Regions from separate parts of the Homo sapiens genome. Here region 2 is linked to region 1. Evidence: fine-mapped expression QTL. Tissue or cell type: whole blood. Region 1 holds a variant in brackets; the other region holds the start of a gene. All regions are shown on one strand. Distances are from middle to middle.

Region 1 (4,396 bases):
AATTCTCACACAATTAGTTCCATTTTCATTGGCACAGGCATTTCTACTTTGTATATGGTGTATTCAAGTTTTGAAAGCACATTTTTTCATAGTTCTTCCCCTGTCAAAACCTTACAGTTACTGTCTTTTATGAACCTATAGCTGTGTTATGTGCTTGACAGAACAACAACAACAACAAAAAGCTTATAAAGATCATAGTTTAAGTTTGTAGTTCAAATCTGGAAAAAAATTAAAACTTTAGCTATATTAAAATTTAAGCCAACTGAGGTCGGACTAAGTACAGAAAATGAAATATGGGCAAAGGAATAAGGAAACTCATTCATACTTGAGCATAACAAATCTTATGTTTTAGAAGGAGCATAAATAAGAACTCAGGACTTGGGGGAAATGAGTAACTTGTACTTCTGGTACAAGGAAAGGAACAATAGACATGAGTCAGTTAATGAGGAGAAGGAAACTTAATTGCTGCCTGGTATTTAGGGGCAACAATTTTGCTGGTAGGTCAAAAATTCAGGATTATAGACTAAAACAGATTCCGCTATAGCTGGGCTTTACTAAAAATGTCTACCTTACCAAGTTTTTACTTTCCCTAGATTTTTTATAAACATGTAGAAAAGCATTTTCTTAATTTTAGTGGCTGGAGACCCCAGGCTTTCTGAGACATGCTGTATCAATCAATTTTTTGAGCATGTTTCTTATCAAGAGAATATAGGAAGAAAGCCGAAGACTCGCTGTCTTACCTCCATGATGGGGTTGGAGGCCAAGACCTTTTCCTCCACATTGGCCTCACTGGCAGAACCACTCACAGTTGCAAAGTATCGCATGGCATACTTAGCTGAGACTGTTTTTCCTGCCCCAGACTCTCCACTTACGATGATGGACTGATTTCGTTCATCTCTGTAAAATAAAAATTTTTTAAAAAGTAACTGCCATTGCTGCCTATAGCAGGATTGATAAGGGAAACTATGGTCTCTATGGAAGTAGGGGGCTAATTAATGGATTTTTTGGTCGATACTGGTGCTTATAACACCAAGGTCTCAGGTTCAATCCCTATACTGGCCACCAGAAATGTTGCAGGATATATATATATTTTTTTTAAGGAATCAGAGAGACCGATGGGGTTGAGGAGGATATTTATTATTTAGGTGCACCAGCCCAGTCAGATTAACATCCAAAGGACCAAGCCCTGAACAAAGCGTTAAGTTACCTTTTAAACATTTCATGGGGTGTGGGGGAGATCTGTGCAGGGGGAAGCATATTACAGAAGTAAGAAACAAAGACAGTTATTCAATTAATTGAGACATGCATTACATCATTTCTTTTCAAGAAAAAACATGTTTTATGACTTGGGTTTATCTGTCTAGTGACTTTGCAGCTGCACAGCTAGAGAAACAGGGTCTTCACAATGCCTGGGAAAGGAGGAGAGATAAGGCTCACTAGCCAAAGAAAAACAGGCAGTTAATTTTTAAAGGACTCCAGCTCTTTCTCTTTCTCAGGGGGAAATGGATTTTCTTACATACAACTGAGTTTCTGCTTACACATTCTTTAATTTCTTTTAATTCCTGTTCCACTGCCCACTTGGCAATGTGATTAACATTATTTCTTCTGTGTTCTTCGTGATAAGGCACAGTGAGTTTTTGCTGGTTCATACATGCAACAGTGTGGAAAGGAACATAAGAATGATATTTCCTAAAAATAATATCTACTTATAAATTAAAAAATAACACAGAGGAAGAAGATATCAAGCATTAAATTAGAGAGCATCACAACTAAGGATGAATCTGCAATAGAGGGCCTCTGAATTCTTATGTGTACAAATCTCAAACATATTATTTTATTCCTAAAGAATTACTTCAATATCTTACAGTACTGTTGTCAACCACTTCAGGAGATACTCTTTGAAGCCACAGCAAAGAAATTTAAATTTACAAAGAAATTTAATTTGTTTAAAGTTACAAAACCATTTAAAATATTTTAAATTACCAGCTAACAATCCTCAAAATGGCATCTCCCACAAACTCTAGCTCCTATTAAAGTATCCTCATCACTAGAGAAGAAATAGTCCATTTGCTGGCTTGGCTTCATTCAACTAAAAGTTAAATAAGTCATGATCTGTATCCTCATGTGGTTGACGGATGTTGTGGTTTGAATGTTCTCTCCAAAATTCATGTTGAAATTTAATTGCCAACATGATGATATTGGGAGGTGGGGCCTTTAAGAGCTGATTAGGTCATGAGGCCCCT[C/G]CCCTCAGGAATGGATTAATGGCATGAATGCAGGAGTGAGCTAGTCATCACGGGAGTGGGCTCCTGATAAAAGGATGAGTTTAAGCTGATTTCCTCTCTGCCTCACATGCTCATGTGCCCTCCTACTACTGAATGACCTTTGCCAGATGCCAGCGCTGTGCTCTTGGACTTTTCAGCCTCCAGAACAGTGAGTCAAATAAACTTCTGCTCTTTATAAATCACCCAGTCTGTGGTATTCTGTTATAGCAGCAGAAACTGGACTAAGACAGTCATCTAATAGGAAAGACAGGCCAATAATTCAAGACTGTAATACATGTGATGGGGCCGTAAGAGGAAGAAGAGGTTATCAGGGAAGATTCCCTAGAGATGACAGCTGAACAAGGTCTACAAAAATGAGTAAGAGAAAGCAAGCAAGGACTACAGAAGTCAGGAAGGGTACATTCCAGGCAAAAGGGATAGCATAAATGAAGGCTCAGAATCAGAAGTTTGGAAAGAGCAGATAACTCAGCTTAGCTGGAAAATGGAGTAATGACAGATTTATGATTTCTGGTTTGGCCAGTCCTTTCAAGGGCCTCCACAATAATCCTAAATAGGCTGGGTACTGGGTGCTTTGGAGTGGAGGTGAGCTCTTCTGACCTGTTTCCAGAAGGTCTAATGTGAACTAAAAGCCCTCTTAAAAATACTGCTTCATTCGTTCATTTAACAAACACATAATAAGCAGCTACAATGTGCTAATCACTTTATGGAAATAAAAGACTCTAGGGTCATAGTCAATTGAGAGAGACTAGAAAGGACACAATTAAAATGCAGTTGGAAGTAACTGCTATAAAAAAGGTCTATCTAAGATACTATGAAAGTAGAAAGGAAGGGTATGGAACCAGTAGGAGATGTGAGGAGGAGATGTCAGGAAAGCCTTTCCAGAGAAGGTAATACCAGAATTGAGAGGGTAATACCAGAATTGACTCATATATATGATCATTAGGAGAAAACCAGGTTCTGTGAGAATAAGGAAATGGAGTTAAATTATGTAGAAGCACTCGAAACCCCAGGAAACAATTATTCAAGGATGAGCAAGAGAGAGATAGAGAAAGAGAGAAAGAGAGAGAGACAGAGAGAGAGAGAGCCGGGGTGGGGGAGGGTGTCTGTTAGCCTTTATTTTCCTCTTATGGTCATCAGTGACCTTATATCTATTTGGTCTGTCGGGTCTTTCCTTATAGTTTTCATTTTGTATGAAATGTATTATTTTATAGATTTTCCTTTCGAATTTTACCCTTTAAAATATGTAATCTCTCTAGTTTATCATGGTCATACCAAACACTATTCATATCTTCCAAGATCATCAACTTGTCCTCTGTAAACTTAATAAACATACTTTCAATTACATCTACGTCATCAACAAGGAAATTAAGCAATGCTTGCCTCAAACCTGAGTAATGTATAACACGATTTAATATCCCCATCTATGTTGATGTTAACTCTCTGATAACCACCCATTGAGTGTTGTCATGTACCTTGATGAAGTGTACATGCACCTGCACCTAGGTCTAACTTTTTAGCTTATAAACAAACATGGCCATGTGAAACAAAATCTAGAGCTTTACTTTTTTGCAGGCAACCAATCTAATTGTTTCTCCCTTTATCCGATCCCTTGTTAAAAAGAGAAAATATTAAGTTAGTGTAATAAAATGCTTTCTTTCAAAACTGTGTTTTTACCGTGGTGTCTTAAAGATGTGGCTTCACTGAGACTTTAATCTCTCTCTTGTTAGAGAGATGCTAAGTTTTTCTACATCATCACTCATCAAAATCAAGCTGCTCTGCTCTCTGTGTCTCTCTGATTCCTACTTTTAATTAGTCTCAATAAGAAAATGCTTAAACCCTAAAGTTAATACTAGACAATGAGTTTACAATTATAATATTAATTTTATTTTTGAAGCATAAATATTTACTATAAAAATGGTTGCTGGCACTGTTGAACGCTTTAGAGAGGCAGACAGACTTCTCAGGAAATGAAAACAAGTGTTTCCTAGAGATACTTGCTGAGGTCACTCAGTTCCTGGTGAGAAGCCTGTCACATGGCTATCAGATCCTCTCAAATCAACCTGAGTTTTCTGTTCCATCAGTACAGAGCCTATGCATTATATAAAGATGCTAGA
Region 2 (4,396 bases), 110 kb after region 1:
TAAGCCAGTCTGTCTTTATAATGACAAAGAGGTTAAAAAAAATTTTTTTTCAACACACGGTCTTGCTGTTTTGCCCAGGATGGAGTGCAGTGGCACAGTCATGGCTCACTGCAGCCTCAACCTCCCAGGCTCAAGCAATCTTCCTGCCTCAGCTGATCATCCTGCCTCAGCTCTCGAGTAGCTGGGACCGCAGGCGTGACTAACTCGCCCAGCTAATTTTTATTTATTTATTTATTTATTTTTTGAGACAGAGTTTCGCTCTTGTTGCCCAGGCTCGCGATCTTGGTTCACTGCAACCTCCGCCTTCCAGGTTCAAGTGATTCTCCTGCCTCAGCCTCCTGAGTAGCTGGGATTACAGGCATGCGCCACCACGCCCAGCTAATTTTCTATTTTTAGTAGAGACGGGGTTTTGCCATGTTGGTCAAGATGGTCTCGAACTCCTGACCTCAGGTGATTCACCCACCTCGGCAACGTGTTGGGATTACAGGCGTGAGCTACCGTGCCCAGCCTAACTTTTTAATTTTTTTGTAGAGACCAGGTCTCATTATGTTCCTCAGGCTGTTAAAAGGTAAATTTTAAAATAGATTGTGATAAAGCTGTGACAGAAGCCCAAAACTTTACCATTTACAAATCACAACATCTTTTCAATTTTTTCTCCCAAATTATCCTGGGGGAAAAAAGCATTCGAAATCCAACAACAATTTATTATCCACTCAGTCTCTAGTTAAGCAGCCTACTATTAGGTGACTCAAAGATGACTGCTCACCATATAGAACGGAGGGTGTCCAATCTTTTGGCTTCCCTGGGCCACACTGGAAGAAGAATTTTCTTTGGCCACACATAAAATACACTAATGATAAATGATGAGCTAAAAAAAAAATTGCAAAAAAAACACAACAACCCATGTTTTAAGAAAGTTTATGAATTTGTGTTGGGGCACATTCAAAGCCGTCCTGGGCCCACATGCGGCCCATGGGCTGCGGGTTGGACAAACTTGATGTAGAAGTGGAGGGGATGGGCTACACAAAGTAACCAAGGAATGTTTACAGACTGATTATCTCTTCATGTGAAAATGATTTTGATATTTCTTAATATCGACCTCATAAGTTCCTTATGAGGATTATGAGTTCATATTTTTAAAACGCTTAAAACAGTACCTGGCACATAGCAAGCACCATATTAAGTGTTTAAGTTACTTTTAATCAGTTTCCAATTGCATTCGTTCATATGTTAGAGATCTACAATGCCTAAAGAAATTACCAGGTTGAGAGAGAAGTTCCAACTGTACAGTCGTTAAATCTAAAACTAGAAAGAAAGAGGTCTCAGACAATGTTTCATGCAAGCTCATTTCATGGTTGAAGAAATTAATCATATATCTCATATTTGCAGAGAAATTCATAGGTTACAAAAAGCTTTCACAACGATTATTAAGTTTGATTCTCACAACAGCTTGTAAGGGATGCAAGGCAAGTATAATTAACTGCATTTACTCATTAGGAAATCGAACCAGAGATGTTAAGTGACTTGTCCAAGGTCACAGTTAGTAAGTCCCGGCTTGAATCCAGGTCTCTTGATGCCCAGTCTTCTTTCCTCTACAAAACACACTGCAACTTGGGCCCTGGACTTCAGTGACATTTGGAAACAATGATTCCAGTGATTACAGGACCCTAAATGAAAGTTCTGTTGCAAAAGCTAATGTGAAAAGGCAACTCTATTAACTGCATGTAGAAGTAATCAATATCTGGCAAAATATCTACCTACACATGAGTGTACAGTATAAAATGCCATGATTACATATATTCACAAAGGTCATCACAAATCTGCGCAGCACTCAAGTGACAGTTCTCCATAATATGTCATTCAGAGATCGCCAGACCCTGAGTATATTGATGTCAGTCTAAGAAAAGACTGCCACTTCCCTTAAACCAAACCCAGAAGGGAAAGGCTTGCCCCAGAGGATGGTAAAGACATGGAGCCTAACAAGGCTCTGCGGGATTACACGCAGGTTGCAAACTCCCAGCGATAAATGAGTACCGACCCTCCCAGCCGGTGAATCAGCTCGCGTTCATCCGGCAGCATCTTTCCCCGGGGCTCGCCACCCCCAGCGCAGCTAAACTGGGGAGCTAAAGGTGATACGGCCACCGTTTGCAGGATTCAAAATAACCTCACAGAAAGGCTAGCTGGCGGTAGAAGCGGCACTGCATACCAACACAAGACGTTATTTTAAGCGCGTGTCCCCACGAGAGAACCCATCCGATCTACTGGAGCAAGCATCTCCCACCCGCCGGGAATTTTCCAAAGCCAAGCAGGAGGGGAGGCACGCCCGCCCTGCTAAATCCACATGGGCCCCCTTTCCACTCCGAAGCCCGCTCTGCCCCCAGCTCGAGCAGCGCGGCAGGGGCCTGGGAGACCCCCGAGGCGGGCCACCTTCCGCCGCCTTCACCATCTCGCCCGAAAGAGGAAGGTGCCGCAGCGGGCGACCGGCTGGTAGGGCCGAGGGTTCTGAGGCGCTGAAGGGGATGGCGCTGGTGGGGCTCGCCTGGGCCCGGCGCTCCCGCCCCCTCCCCAGCCTGACAGCTGGCGGCGAGGGCCGCACAGCCCCAGTCCTCGACGCCGGCCGCGGGGTGCCTTACCTTTGTGTAGAGCTCCGACGCAGCCATGGCGGGCCCCGCGCGCCTACGCCCCCCGCCTGTGCGGAGGCCGCACCTCGCCTGGGCGGCCGCCCGAGCGGACTAGGAAGCGCCCGCAGCCGCCGGCAGGGAGCAGGGCAGGGCAGGGCCGGGCGGGGAGGGCCGCGCGGGGCGGGGCGGGGCGGGGCGCCTCAGGCGCTGGCCGCCCGCAGGGGCCTCGCCATCACTCCCGGGCTCGCCGCGAGCAGCCGCGAGCGCTCCACCTGCCCGGGGTCCTAGGGGTCGCCGCCGCCGCCGCAGCCACTTCGGCGGCCCGCGATGCTGCCTCCGCTGCCGCCGCCGCCACCGCCGCCGCCCTGTGCATTATGGGAGCGGGAGGAGGCTGCGCTCCAGCGCTGCCACCGCGGCTGCTCTGGGCTCTCTCGGGCTCACGCTGCCTCCCATCGGCTACGAGCACAGAGCATCATCATCATCAGCCTGCCAGCCGGCCCCGCCGCCGCCTCGCGCCCTGCCGAGGCCCGGAAACCCGCCCGGGACGTGAGCCCCGAGGGCGCGGCACACCCCGGGCGCCCCCACCCCGAAGCGAGCCCGGGGCCCTCTGCTGCGGAGCCTAGCTCCCGCGGTAGCGCAGCCATGGCACGGGCTGTTACTGTGTCCGAATAAACGATGGGAGCCTCCAGGCTGCTCCTCCCGTCCTTCCAAGCATTCCTAGGGAGAGGATTTAGGGGAAGCCCTCTTGAAAGACTGTAGAATAACCCAGGACTGTAGAAGAGCCTTGTCAGCAGCAGTGACCCGGGAGATGGGCAATGCAGGACCGGGAATTTCAGGTTAAGGTTGATCACCAAGGTCATTCCGAGCACCTCGATGTCTGCAGCAAAGTCGTCTCCCGATACCAGAGGGCAAGGGCCGCTTCTAAGCTACAGAAACTTAAGTGACTTTGAAACGAGATAGCCCGGGGACAGCCCAGGTGCCTCTTTCCTAGACCTGTGCGTTTGCGGAGATGCAACTACCCTTCTGTCCCAGCCTTCTTCCCGTCCTGTTCGCTGCTGGTGATTGTCGGCTCCATGGTGGCACCTGAAGTTTATCCGGTTGCCACCTGAAAATGACGGAGTACTTACATGGAAAATCTGTATTACAGTTTAACTCAACATCAAAAGGGCAAAGCCGCCCTCACTCTCCTCACGGTGATCCTTGAACATCCAGCACAAGAATGTGGTCTTTCTACTCCCAACCCTGCGCTGTCTTCATCCTCTATCTTCTCCCCACCCTCATTGTCGTTTCTGGTTGAATAATCTTCATTCTTTATTGTTGTCGTTGTTGTTGTTGCTGTTTTTGTTTGTTTAATCCCTGCCTCTTTGTAGTGCCCTCATCTCTCGTTTCTTTGAACTACAACTGGTCCCCAGTGCCTGTCATGGTAATCTGGTAGACCATTTCTATCACGAACAACTCTCATGGCTGAGGCCCCCGGTTGTGTGTGTTGTGTGCGTGTGTATTTGGAGAAAGACCATTCACTGAAAGGAACGGGGCCAGTCCTTACTCCGTGGAACTCAGACCTCTCCTCTTCGCCCACAATCCCCTCAGAAATGCTAGAGGGAATGTCTACTGAGTCGAAAGTCCTACAGATTTGTCTCTGTTCCTTCCCATTGCAAAACCAAATCGCTTTCATGTTTCTGGGACCCACTCTTTCTTCACCCAGACATAAAAAGAGAAAACGTGTGCAGTGACGACCAGCGGAACGGAAGGAGCACTGGACTGAGATTTAGGAG

The links. PIP is the estimated chance that this variant, and not a neighbour inherited with it, causes the effect.
Region 2: it holds the start of MYO5A, and the variant in region 1 is the best candidate, but not a certain one, in a credible set for the expression of MYO5A in whole blood (INTERVAL, PIP 0.63).

The regions. Positions count from the first base shown.
Region 1 is chr15:52,415,405-52,419,800 of GRCh38, forward strand. MYO5A (myosin VA) reads right to left here. Exons shown (of 42, transcript NM_001382347.1): 5 at 741-897. Among named protein-coding and RNA genes, the nearest start is that of MYO5A, 110 kb to the right of the region's middle. The variant C/G (reference allele first, on the strand shown) is at 2,244.
Region 2 is chr15:52,526,147-52,530,542 of GRCh38, forward strand. MYO5A (myosin VA) reads right to left here and starts at 2,734. Exons shown (of 42, transcript NM_001382347.1): 1 at 2,634-2,734. The coding sequence starts at 2,660. RefSeq lists a silencer at 2,384-3,263.